Regions from separate parts of the Homo sapiens genome. Here region 2 is linked to region 1. A link means that fine-mapping ties the variant in region 1 to the expression of a gene that starts in the linked region. Tissue or cell type: whole blood. Region 1 holds a variant in brackets; the other region holds the start of a gene. All regions are shown on one strand. Distances are between the middles of the regions.

Region 1 (7,170 bases):
AATGAGCTGAGATCATGCCATTGCATTCCAGCCTGGGTGACAAGAGCAAAACTCTGTCTCAAAATAAATAAATAAATAAATAAATAAAATGTCCTCATGAAACACCTGTGGCTTAGCATTCCAGCCTGGGTGACAAGAGCAAAACTCTGTCTCAAAATAAATAAATAAATAAATAAATAAATAATAAATAAATAAAATGTCCTCATGAAACACCTGTGGCTTAGCAGGAAGTTGGAAGCTAAAGAAGTGACCAGCGCCTGGAGTTTGGCTCCTGGCTGAATCCACATGGGCTCTTTGGTTCTTTCTTTCTTTCCCTGGAATAAGGATTCAAGGAGAATTTCTCCAATAGGATATATGCCATGGGAGTATGATTGAGGAGGGGCAAAAACGTGATATAATAAGAACAGCAAAATAACAGTATGCAATTTTAAAATATTTTATTATAGAAAGCTTAAAGCATACACAACAGTAAACTGTATAATAAACCTCTATGTACCTATCAACCAACTTTAACAATTATCAATATTTTGCTAATCTTATTTTTACCTATCTTGCCTTACTTTTTGGCTGGAATATTTTAAATCAAGTCTCAGACATCATAACAATTATCTGTAAGTTATTAAAAAAAATTTTTTTTTTTGTAGAGACGGGGTCTCACTTGTTTTCCCAGGCTGGTTTCAAACTCCCAGCTTCAAGCAATCCTCCCACCTCGGCCTCCTAAAGTGCTAAGATTAGGTGTTAGCCACCACTCAAGGTTTATAATTTCTTCAGAATGTGTTTCTGACAACTTTTTTTTGCCTAACCACCATGCCATTATCACAACTAACAATTTCAACAATAATTATGTTTATTAAAATTAAGGCTCACGCCTGTAATCTCAGCAATTTGGGAGGCCGAGGCAGGCGGATCAACTGAGGTCAGGCGTTCGAGACCAGCCTAGCCAGCATGGTGAAACCCCGTCTCTACTAAATATACAAAAATTAGCTGGGTGTGGTGGCGCATGCCTATAATCCCAGCTACTCAGGAGGCTGAGGCAGGAGAATCCCTTGAACCTGGGAGGCGGATGTTGCAGTGAGTCACCGTACTCTAGCCTGGGTGACAGAGGGATACGCTGTCTCAAAAAAAAAAAAAATTAATGAAAGTAATTAAAGTTTAGTTATTTAATAAATGACAGCATGTACATTCTGAAAAACAGAATATGTGCAGTATTCTGCAGACAGAATAATTTGAATAAAATTTGAATTTAAAAGATACCATTTCAAACTGTAAGCCCCCTAAAAATCAGTGGACCTTGGCTTCACTTGTTTAAATCCTCATGGCTTCTAGAAGTTTTGGGTGGGGGGACATCTTTAAAAATTATTTTTCTAACAGAAGTCTTACTATTTTTCAACTTATTTTCTATGAGTCCTAGGAGGTAGAAAGAGATTTTTCTTGTCTGATAGACTTGAAAGTATTGGGTTAGGTAAGTGGAAGAAAGATCATATTTAGAAGGTAACCGTTGAATGTTTAATCACTATTGTTTTGACATCTAGAAGTATTGTCATAGGTTACAATTTAAACATCAGAAGATGGGGGTGTATGAGAATATCACATTTAGGGAGATGTCAGTTGTCCAGAAGTTTTGCAGAGAATCTGGAAAATAAACATGAGAGTAAGTTTTCTTTCTTTCTTTCTTTTTTTTTTTTTGAGAGAGCTTTGTTGCCCAGGCTGGAGTACAGTGGCTGGCTGACTACAACCTCCGCCTCCTGGGTTCAAGCAATTCTCGTGCCTCAGCCTCCTGAGTAGCTGGGATTATAGGCGCCTGCCACCATGCCTGGCTAATTTTTGTATGTTTAGTAGAGACAGGGTTTCACCATGTTGGCCAGGCTGGTCTCGAACACCTGACCTCAAGAGATCTGCTCACCTCAGCCTCCTAAAGTGCTGGGATTACAGGCATGAGCCACGGCGCCTGGCCGAGAGTAAGTTATTAATAGTTCTACTGATGTCAGAAATAAGATGTAGTCTGAATTCCATGAATTGTTTCCAGTTAATGGAAAGTTGAATTGTGGTGGAATTGGTAGGGAAAAAAAGCAGTTATGGTCCTCTGTCTCCATTCTAGTTCATCCTTATTTAAAGAATATTACTCCAGGCAGTGAGCACATGCGCGCGGTGGCTCATGCCTGTAATCCCAGCACTGTGGGAGGCCGAGGTGGGCGGATCACCTGAGGTCAGGAGTTCCAGACCAGCCTGGCCAAAATGGCAAAACCCCGTCTCTACTAAAAATATAAAAATTAGGCCAGGCGTGGTGGCTCACGCCTGTAATCCCAGCACTTTGGGAGGCTGAGGCAGGTGGATCACCTGAGGCTGGGAGTTCGAGACCAGCCTGACCAACATGGAGAAACTACGTCTCTACTAAAAATACAAAATTAGCCAGGCGTGGTGGTGCATGTCTGTAATCCCAGCTACTTGGGAGGATGAGGCAGGAGAATCGCTTGAACCCAGGAGGCGGAGGTTGCAGTGAGTTGAGATCGCGCCACTGCACTCTAGCCTGGGTGACAGAGCAAGACTCCATCTCTAAAAACAAAAAAAGAACATTTCTTCAACAAAATAAATATATTCACGTATGCATAAATTTTTTAAAACTTTTTTTCTTTTTATAAAAAAATCAGTTTTCTCAGGTTGAAATGTTAAAATCACCTCTGATGAAGATAGAGAACTAAAATATAAAATATGGGTTTGTCTCTGATTCCTTTTTGGTTTATAATAATTTGCATATGGCTTTCCATGGATCACTTTAGCAGTTTGTGCTAAAGTCATTAGTTCTTCCTAAGATACAAAAGAAATTCTCAAAATGCTTGTTTCCTATTAGGCAGGGAAGTTGTTTTTCTCATCTCTCAAGTTGCATGACCAAAAGTAGCAAAAATACTTTATCTCTAGGGAAGTGAAAGCTTGCTTCTCAAATTGCTTTAGTGAGGCTTTAGGAAATGGCCCCTGGCTGGTATCATAGGATATAATACCGTCTTGCAAATAGTAATTTTGAATTCAGTTCTTTGTATCTATGAGATAAAAGAGTCTTCTTCCATTGACTGTCTTAGATGGGCTTATCACATTCAACAGTATTTACTGAGCATTTGTTTTAAGAAACTACTACCCTAGTTGCTAACTCATTGCTCCCTAGACATTGTATTTGGATTGAGGAGCAGAACATAGACATCAACAAAACAGATCTGGAACCCGATATCATGTACCTCTAAATGTGAAGTATGCGGTAGAGCTAATGTTTTGTCAGAGTTTAAAGAAGGAAGCAATAATATGGGCAAAGTTGTTGAGCAAGGCTTCAGGGAGGAAGTAGAACCTGAACAGGCTTTTAAAAACACTGGCACCATTTGGATTGGTGAGGAGGCGGTAGAAGGGTGTCCTCTCTGGGTGGGACAGCACAAACAAAGGTGTGGGAACAAAACTCAACAAGGCACATTTGGGCAACACTTGGTTGAGCAATTCCATGGGAGTGCAAGACTCATGGGCGAAATCATTG[G/A]AAGCCACATGGTGGAAGGCTTTAAATGTCAATGTGTTCTTCATGCCATGGAAATTCAGAAGGCTTGGCAGTTTGCAGGAAAGACCAGAATTGAAGAATACAGGAGCTGAGGGGATCAGGGGACTGCTATAACAACAGGGAGTTGACAGAGCACGAACTCACATGGGAGCTCTGAAAGTGAAAAGGCAGGGATGGGTGTGGAGGGCAGCTAGAAGAATGCTTTGCAAGACTTGAAGAATGACTGAAAACTAGGGAAGATGGGGGAATCCAAAACATTTCATGGCTTTGGAATTTGGTGACCAGGCAGATGGTCATAGAGGGTCAAAGCTGTCCACGAGCTCCAGCAACAGGAGGAAGCACAGCATTCTGTGCTCAGACTAGTGTGGCAGGCCTGCAGAATGCGTGTGGGCCCTTGTTCCTGTGCTTGGCTGAGGGCTTCCTGAGAGCAGTTGCTCCATCTCTGACCCACCGGACCACTACTGCCTTTGGATCCTGGGTGGTGGGCTTCACTCACACAGTCGAATGGGTTTCTCATGCCTTTGTCCCTGGGCTACAGTCCTCCACTTCACACCACACCGGTCAAGATGGAATGTGGCCACATTATCTCACTACAGCAAACATGCCCATAGTTTGCAAATTTGGTACATCAACCGCCACGCTCATAAAGATGATGGTTTGGACCAGGATAGCAGGAGTCTGGTCAAGAGATTAATGCAGGGTCAGAGATCAGGAGTCTTATCATCTTGATCTCTGCAAGCTAATGATTTATCCTTCTTCAATTGCTTAACATTAATCACATTTATATAACATGAGGCCTAGGAACAATACTTGACCCCACAAGAGATTGTGATTCCAAACAACTAGTCAGATGTTCCTCCTTTTGTGGTTTTATTTCATTTGCATTCTTTTTTATTTTGATATTTTTCAGTTTGGCCTTTGTAATTGCAAACAGCTTAAGGCAATTCACCACCCAACCCACTTCACTTATTTATGTTTCCTGCCTGGCTCAGCAAGCACTTGAATTTAAACTCTGGTCTACACAAGGTCAAGATATTCAGGTCAAATGTCTATTAAATCAAATGTTTTCTATATTCTACACAACTAGTAGAGTTCAGAGGATCAGAGATTTGGGGACCTGAAGGGGGTCTTTTATTAATTCCCCCCTTGCATTATGGTTGAGACAATCGAGGTCCAGAGGGTAACGTAACTTGTGTTAGGGACCAATTAAGGGCTGGAGTCCATGTCTTGAGTTACATTTTAAGATGTCAATTGAGAACGGATACGGGTTTCTTAAAACTCAAATTTATCCTCAATCTTGAAATTTATTCAGTTATTCATTTAATAAATATTTGTGGATAACTTATTATACAATAGGCACAGTGCTAGGAGCCATGGGCATAGGTGTGAACAGACAGACAGATCTTGCCCTCATGGAACTTGTTTTCTTTTCTTTCTTTTTTTCTTTTTTTTTTTTTTTTGAGAGAGTCTGGCTCTGTTGCCCAGGCTGGAGTGCAGTGGTGATCTTGGCTCACTGCAACCTCCACCTCCCCGGTTCAAGTGATTCTCCTGCCTCAGCCTCCCAAGGAACTGGGATTACAGGCACCCACCACCACGCCTGGCTAATTTTTGTATTTTTAGTAGAGACAGGGTTTCACCATATTGGCCAGGCTGGTCTCAAACTTCCAACCTGAAATGATCCACCCACCTTGGCCTCCCAAAGTGTGAGCCACTCTTACAGGTGTGAGCCACTGCACCCGGTCAGAACTTGTTTTCTGATGCTGGTAGTTGAGGTGGGTGCTATGGAGGCAATAAGTACGGACACATGAGTAAGGAGTGAGGCGATAAGTGGTCATTTTAGATTCTTTAAGGGAGTCCATCTTACCTAATTTTTTCAATAATATCACCAGAATCAATGATGGCACATCTGCATTTTTCAGTTAAAACACATAACACATTTAGGTTACAATGGAACACAGCTTTTCAATGTACTAAAATGGCTGTTTTTTTGTTTTTGTTTTTGTTTTTGTGACAGAGTCTTGCTCTGTCGCCCAGGCTGGAGTGCAGTGGCATGGTCTCAGCTCACTGCAGCCTCGGTCTCCCAGGTTCAAGCAATTCTTGTGCCTTAGCCTCCTGAGTAGCTGAGATTACAGGTGCGTGCCACCATGCCCAGCTAATTTTCTTTTCTGTTCTGGTTTTTTATTTTGTTTTGCATTTTTAGTAGAGATGGGGTTTCATCATGTTGGCCAGGCTGGTCTTGAACACCTGACTTCAAGTGATCCACCCGCCTTGGCCTCCCAAAGTGCTGAGATTACAGGCATGAGCCACCGTGCCTGGCCCTAAAATGGCTGTTTTGAGTTGACACAGAGCCATGTCCAAACACCCGTTTCCACTTCGCCTATTTAAATTTCCCTCCTGGCTCTGCAGGCATTGGAGTTTCGACCTGAGATTCTATGCCAGGCCAAGATATCTAGATTGTTTGCATTCTATATCAAAACATATAATTGGCCAGCCGCGGTATCTCACGCCTGTAATCCCAGAACTTTGGGAGGCTGAGGCGAGCAGATCACCTGAGGTTGGGAGTTCGAGACCAGCCTGACCAACATGGAGAAATCCTGTCTCTACTAAAAATATAAAAATAGCCGGGCGTAGTGGCGCATGCCTGTAATCCCAGCTACTAGGGAGGCAGAGGCAGGAGAATCGCTTGAATGAGGGAGGCAGAGGTTGCGGTGAGCTGAAATTGCGTCATTGCACTCCAGCCTGGGCAACAAGATCGAAACTCTGTCTCAAAAAAAAAAAAAAAGAGGCCGGGCGCGGTGGCTCACGCCTGTAGTCCCAGCACTTTGGGAGGCCGAGGCGGGCGGATCACGAGGTCAGGAGATCGAGACCATCCCGGCTAAAACGGTGAAACCCCGTCTCTACTAAAAATACAAAAAATTAGCCGGGCGTAGGGGCGGGCGCCTGTAGTCCCAGCTACTTGGGAGGCTGAGGCAGGAGAATGGCGTTAACCCGGGAGGCGGAGCTTGCAGTGAGCCGAGATCCCGCCACTGCAGTCCAGCCTGGGCGACAGAGCGAGACTCCGTCTCAAAAAAAAAAAAAAAAAAAAAAAAAAAAAGAAAAGAAAAGAAAAGAAAAACACATATAATTAAATTATTAAGTAAAAATTATTTGTGGCATGGTGTTTTGTAGATTTTGCCTGATCCAGAGAAAAGGTAATCAATGCATGTTTATTGACCACATCATTGATTTGTAGGAGTCAAATTATGTTAAAGTAGCCAAAGTTAATCTATCACAGAATCATAGTATTTTGTGGCTAGAAGATATTTAACAGATGACTTAGTTCAGCTCCCTTATTTAATAGATGGGAAAACAGACTCTGAGGGAGGCCAAGTGGCTTACAGAAGGCTACACAGATAGAAGTTATATATGTTATTTACAGTACATCTACTGTGGTTAAGAGAGGCCTCCTTGCATTTATTTTAGAGCGGAGTTGGTAGAAATAGTTAGATATAGCAGTTTAGAGCATGAGCTCTGGTGTCAGACAGACCTAGAGAAAATTTAAGTAAAACTTAAAATTTACTTGACTATGTATGTGCCCCTGGGATATTAGTTAATATCTTTTAGCTGTAGTCTCCTTATTGGAAAAATTGGCAAAGTTA
Region 2 (7,170 bases), 100 kb after region 1:
TAGAACTAGCATCCGGACTGTCTTTCTTCAGATTATGTTCCTAGAATCTGGGTTCCCCAGGGCAGCCTCTCATTACTGTCAGTATTAAGGACTAGAAAGGAGCTGGAAGAGGCTTGGCCGCTTTTATAGGTTTTTGGTAGTGGCATAAAGATTTCACTTGGTTGGGGGAGGGGGGTAGGGGGACAGAAGAGTCTGTTGTGGAAACTAAAAGAAAAGAAGGGGAGAGTGGTCTGAAATCAAAAAGTCTGGATTACGTATACAAGCTTTGAGTTGAACAAGGTTTAAATTTTAGCTCTGCTACTTTTTAGTTATGTGACCTTGGGCGAATGGTTTAATCTCTCTAAGTCACACTTTGCACATTTAATAATGTTTCTTACCTTATAGGGTTACTGTGAATATTAAATGAGCTAATACATGTAAAGCATTCCTACCCAGAACATAGTCAGCTCTAATAAATAGTGACTGACAGACAGCTACAAGGGCAGATAACCTATATTCTCCTTCAGTTTCTTATGCTCCCTCTGGAATGTCTCAGAAGCATAGGAAGCACTGTTTAAGCCTCCTGCAATCAAAAATCATTCTTTTTAATTAGCCCTAATAGACCCTATGGTTTTTTTTTTTTTTTTTCCAAAATCTATTCATAGTTTAATGTGGGCTATGGACAAAGGTTCACTTTGTAAGACTGTCTAGCTAGGTTAAAAATAAAATATGCAGAAATGTGTGGAACTTCAACAATAGAATATAAGAAAATGAATTATTCTGAACTGCAAACAAAGGCATTGTAGTATATGAATGTGTATGTGAAGTAAAAGTTTGGAAAGTATAAACATCAGTATGGTAACAGTTACTACATCTGGGAAAGGGAGAAAGATTGGAGAGGAGGTGGGATATACCTTATTATTGTTTTAATGTTTTATAGATGTATTTACATATTGTTTAACTAAAAACAAACAAACAAAAAAAGCAAAGTCATGTACAAGCAGAAATAAACATTTAGAATACAGAATTTGTGGAATAAACCAAAGTAGACAAAAATCAAAGAATTTATCCCTGGGGCATTCAATGACTTGATACAAGGTCACCTTCTACTTAGTTAACTGTCCTTGAGGAGTAAGGAGAGCGCAGGGGCAGGAGAGATGTCTGATCCTGTCTCCAGCAACTGATAGACCCAGGTTAGAAGTTAGATGAAGCTGCCTGCCAGTTATCTTGGTAGAAACTTCTTTCTGCATGTACTCAGATAAGACATCAGTACCCTGGGTGGTTCTCTGCAAAATTCAAGGTCTGCAGAGTCACCAACTGAAGTCTATTGGTAAACTTGCTTTTAAGCAAAACAAAACCAAATGGCAAATTAGTATTTCTATTAGTACATTTTGATAACAAAGAAAATAAAAGACAATTTAAAATTTATGTAACTTAAATCTACATTGCTTAAGAACATCTGACTGAGGAGTTTTAGAATATCCCCAATACCATGAAATAAATACAGTAATTAAAAGGCAATAGAGTTTAAATACTGGATAATGGGCTATGGCATTTTTAAAATTAGCAAAACATTTGTTTATTATTGAAAATTAGGGCTGGGCCTGGTGGTGGACATCTGTAATCCCAGCAATTTGGGAGGCTGAGGCAGGAGGACCACTTGAGCCCAAAAGGTCAAGACCACCCTGGGCAATATAGCAAGACCCCGTCTCTAAAAAAAAGAAAAAGAAAGAAAGAAAATTAATTTTCATAAAGGGCTCTTCCCTTGGAAAGAAATATTTTAGCTACAGAGAAAAACTAAGAAGCCTTGTGGAGCTCTGTGAAGTTGCACTGACTTGCTTTCACTTAGCTTGCAGCTCACTAGTGAGATTTCACATGGTACTCCCACTCCAAGAGCAGGGGCCAGGACAGGTTGGTTTCATTTTGGTTTGAATGCATATGCTTTGGCCCACAGACTTGGAGAAAGATTTTGCTTTACTGATGAGAACTCAGTCAAGGGTGCTTGGGAGCCTTCGCTGGCCCTCTAGCTGGGCCTGACATGTTGCCTGCATTTCTAGCCTTGCCTTCCCAGCTTGCCCATTTGGTGCAGGGAGATAGTCCAGCCCACCCTGAAATTCACTGTGTTCTGCGGATGAGTTAACTGAAGGGCTGTGTTTCAGGAGTGGCACAGAAAGGACCTGAATGAAAGGAAGGAGGAATGAATGGAGAGAACCATTTTGGTGGAATTGCCCTAGGGTATTAAATAGGATGGGGCAACTGGGGACTGGAGGATGTTCCTTCTCTTACGTTGCTTAGGAAACACTGTCCTTAAGAGTGTCAGTGTCATTCCTTTAACAATCATTCATTTCTTACCTCCCGCTTGTGTATAAATTTGCAGATTTACACAGACCACCAGTGTGGCCATCCCAGTGAACTGAGTTTATTGTGAAATATACATGCAAAAAAATCCTTTTTTCTCACCTACAACCAATGCAACATTATTCATACTTTGAGTTGAAGAATAAGGAGTTTAAGAAATAAATGCATACAGCAACATAACCCTGAATTATCACTCAAATACAGACCTCCCACTGCTCTCTCCCAAAAAAAAAAAAAAAAAAAAAAAAAAAAAGGCAGTTATTCTAAGCAAAAGCAAAAATTGAGGCAACTTAAAATAGACAATTTTAAATGCTGGATTCCATCATTTCTGTAAAAGGTCATTCTACTCCTTTGCTATTTATACCACAGATAGAGACACAGCAAATTATTGGCTGAATGGATTTGGGAAACCAGAAGCTGCTGCTTCTGACGAACGAAGATGATAATGCATCACTTGAGACTGAGTGGATGAAAGGTGTAGAAAAGTTGAACCCTTCAAAGATGAGAGGAAGCTGCTAAATTAGCCCCTGACTAAATTACTAGCCATAATTGTACTCAAGCCAGTTCTCTTTGCGACTGCCTTGTAATCTTTGTTGTGGCTTGAGAGAGAAAAATCCCCATTCCCAGCTCAAACCCGTTTAAGGCATCTCAGCCCAACCCCCTCCTCCCAATGCAACTCTTCATAGCCCCCTGCCCCTCCTCCAACAAATTCTAATCAAGTCAGGTATAGTTCTCAGCTTTACCACTGCCATCAGAAGCACGGCTTACATTAAGGGTTTAGCAACAAAACCTCAGGCTTACTTCAGGCAAACATTCAAAAGCATTTAAGAGAAGCACAGAAAACAAAAGAAATAAGCAAAACCTGTCCTTACCCGCTTCTTAAAAAATTGGAAGGCTGAGCATTTCTTGACTGGGAATCCATTCATGTCTTTGTTTACCATTTTCCACCGTGGGGAATTCACAGTTATAGATCCAGGTTGGCACCCGCCTGGTTAGTGCATATCTGTTTCCCCGGTTTACCTCCTGCAGACAGTTAATGAAGACTGAGCGGGATGGAGAATCTAGCGGGGCTCAGTTCTTCACTCGCGCATTCTGCAGCACCAGCTACTGCAGCAACCTCTCCCCACTTTCAGTTGCCACCGACAGCGGCTTTTCTCCTTCCATCATTGCTCCGAAACATATGCATCACCGCTGCAGGACCCTGGGGGCCGGACGGTGGGATACGGCCAATCTCCGGGGAGATGCTGTGGCTCTTACCGAGCGGGAGAAGGGTACGCCTCCCCGCCCCCAGCTACCTGGCTGCTCTTCCGCGGCCGGCGCGGGGAGCGAGTCGCTCTTCTCCAGGTGATGCGCTCCTGGAGGCGGCTTGAGAGAGGAGAGTTGTTTTTGATTGTGCAAGTTCCAGTGGGAGCTGTAGTTAAGCAGCTGAGAGAAGGAGTAAGAAAGAGCAGAAGCCAGAGGGAGGGAGGGAGAACAGCGCCAGAAAGGCAGAGGGAGCGAGAAGGCGAGGCTGGAAGAAGCAACGGTTCATGAATATCTGAGCAGCGGATGGAGAGAAGGCACAGCCGGCTCAGGGCACACTGAAGAGCAGTTGACTCCCCTTGGGAGGGTTACTTTAAATAGCTTCTTTTCTTTCTTTCTTTTTTTTTTTTTTTGGTTAGGACCATTTAAATCAGAGTTTCATATAAATTGCACACCGTTTTTATTTTATGCTCATTGACATTCTTTTGAATCCTGTTGCTGAATAAAAGCCTCTCAACGGAAATGTAATCACATTTAATCTCGACCTGTCCAAACGTGGAAGAAAATGAAATAAAGTGCAAGCGTAGGTATAACAATGGAAGATCTCTCACTATGTAGAAGCTCTTTTAGCCTCCCCTCCCCTACTTGTCATTATATAGTGGGCAATGGTGACGGTAATTGTGTCTTTTTCATTAAAACAGCTTATTAAAAAAAGAACACAATGAACATATACAAAGTACTTTATTACACACATACACACACACACGAGTTATTACCAAAAAGTACTACTGAATCCATTTAATGATGAGGAAGGTTTGATAAATAAAAGAGTAAAGCATTCTTCCTATTAGGTGAAAAATTTCCCAAAAAATCCTTACTCATGTTATCCTTTGCACACTGAGCTCCTTTTAAAAAAGCCATTTAATTGTATGTGGCTTATTTTTCCATTTTTATTCTTTAATGTTGATATTTTATGGGAATGATTTTAAAGATTAGTTGATAGTAAAGCAAGAAAGCAAAGAAAATAAACTTGGCATCTGACCTGGCAGAAAGCCACCAACATCGGTGTGTGGCTTTCTGCCATCACCTGACCTCACTGTGCCTTTCGGACACTGCCTCATCCATAAAATGGAGGCAGCCACTCATTCATTCATTCACTCATTCATTTATTTAGTCATTCATTATTTGCTATTTCATTCCATTAATAAATCTAACTCTGACAAGTGTCCTCAGGATGTGGAGCCTTTTCATAATCATCACAAGGGAATATAATTGATAAATAAGTGAAAGGCGCAATGCTAATTTGAAACTGATTATGACCTCATTATATATAACACACCTAACATTGTTAAAGTATTTACATGGAAGTCTCTGGTAAGAAGAGAAACATCAGGTTAAACTGGGAAAGAAATGCATGGGTTTCATTGAATTGGACTATAAATCTCTACAGTTGGGCCAGAGTTTTTGGGAATAAACATGAAATCCTGTTTGCTAAATGCCTTGAGGTTTCCAAAAAGAAAATGCAATACAACTAAATGATGGCATGATAACCAAGGGAAAACAACTATTCATTTTGGAGAGATATGTTAAGTTGTCCAAGATGCAAGTATATGTTATGTAATCTACAACATTGATAAGTTTTTGTGGTTCTTCTAAAGAGTTCATTTAAAATTATGGTAGTTCAAAGGGAATTATTTTGAGACGATGGAAGTGTTCTCTATCATGATGATGGTGGTGGTTACATAACTATGCATTTGTCAGAACTCATCAAATTTTATATAGGAAAAGGGAAACTTTTGCTGCATGTAAATTATACCTCAATGGACCTCATTTTAAAAAATGATGGTCATTCAAGTTCTTTCTTTTTCGTCCCATTGCCACTCCCCCAAAAGTGTTTTAACAGACATTTATTGAATTTGAGTAATATACAGGAGGGGACCTTTAAGCACTCTGCTAGGAAGGAGGTGCTGGGGCTTTGCTTAATCCCACATTGGCCTAGCATGCATACTGGTTGATATCATTTGGCTGTGTCCCCACCCAAATCTCGTCTTGAATTGTAGTTCCCACAGTGAGTGATTTCTCATGAGATCTGATGGTTTTATAAGGGGCTTTTCTCCCTTTTGCTCAGCACTTCCCCTTCCTGATGCCATGTGAAGAAGAATGTGTTTGCTTCCCCTTCTGCTCTGATTGTAAGTTTCCTGAGGCCTCCCCAGCCATGCTGAACTGTGAGTCAATTAAACCTCTTTCCTGTATAAATTACCCATCTCACTATGTCTTTATTAGCAGTGTGAGAACGGACTAATACCCTGGTTTCATGTAGGATGTATGTTCATTTGGGGTGCAGGCGGGTGGTTAATAGAGATTATGAGGGAGGAGAAGACAAGCTAAATGCTATCTTTTCCCTCACTCCATGCCACCTCTTGAAGATGCTGCCACTGTCACTTGGTCTATGCTAGATCCTATGGAAGGTCCAGTGCATGTAAGTGTCACTGGTTTTTGTCACCAAGGAACTCACAGCCTAGTAGAGAAATATACAGTGTGGTAAGAATACTATATACAGTAGTCCTCCCTTATCTGAGGTTTTACCTTCCACAGTTTCAGTTACCTAAGGTCAACAATGGTCTGAAAATCAGTGAGTACAATACGATACTTTTAGAGACACAGAGAGAGACCACAGTCACATCATTTTTATTATCGTACATTGTTAAAATTATTCTACTATTGTTGTTAATCTCTTACTGTGCTTGATTTATAAATTAAACTTTATTATAGGTATGTATGTACAGGAAAAAACATAATGTATATGGAGTTTGGTACTATCTGAAGTTTCACGCATCCATGGGGGGGGTCTTGGAATGTATCCCCCATGGATAAGAGTGTACTACTCTGTGTGTGTGTGTGTGTGTGTGTGTGTGTGTGTGTGTGTGGTGTGTATGCATCAACCCTGCCTTAATTTGGAGGGGGGAAGGGTGGGGCTGGATGGGTAAGAGAGGTCCAGGAAATTTACCTAAAGGGATGATGTTAGTGCATGGCCTTAAAGAATGAGTAGGTCAGTCAGATGAAGGAAGAGAAGTATAGGGCAGGGATTCTGACTATATCTGACAGCCAATTATTTTGGATTATCTTTTGATTGGTGCAATAATAGAGAAATGCATTAACTGCACTGTGTTGGTTATTCAGGAAAAGAAGGCATCTTTCATCTCACTCTGACCTCTATTTTCATAAGTAAAGCTGCCCTCAGGTAAGCCCAGAGTGACTACTGTTTACTAAATGTTTCCTTTGACAGGTCCACTGTTGATACCTATAAAGGAGCACAGGCTCCTGCTTATAATAATAAAAAAAAAAACTCTGGACTCATGCAACATCTTGTTTATAAATCAAACTTAATTTAATTAATTAACTCACTTCTTGTTCCCATAAAACACACTTATTTATTTTTGTAGCACCAGCACACAGCGGAGTGCCTGGGCCATGCTAGCACTCAACAAATGGTTTTCAAACGAATTAAATACAAAAGTAAGTATAGCTGACATCAGTGACCCTGGCACCAGACCATTTGCAGGAATCATTAAATACCTTTAAGATTCTTCA

Evidence for each region. PIP is the estimated chance that this variant, and not a neighbour inherited with it, causes the effect.
Region 2: SGK1 starts here. The variant in region 1 is fine-mapped to the expression of SGK1 in whole blood (INTERVAL, PIP 0.97).

What each region holds. Positions count from the first base shown.
Region 1 is chr6:134,213,462-134,220,631 of GRCh38, forward strand. The region is part of intron 2 of SGK1 (serum/glucocorticoid regulated kinase 1); the gene reads right to left. Among named protein-coding and RNA genes, the nearest start is that of SGK1, 100 kb to the right of the region's middle. The variant G/A (reference allele first, on the strand shown) is at 3,515.
Region 2 is chr6:134,314,183-134,321,352 of GRCh38, forward strand. It overlaps SGK1 (serum/glucocorticoid regulated kinase 1), which reads right to left and starts at 3,930. Exons shown (of 14, transcript NM_001143676.3): 1 at 3,210-3,930. The coding sequence starts at 3,278. RefSeq lists an enhancer at 3,478-3,757.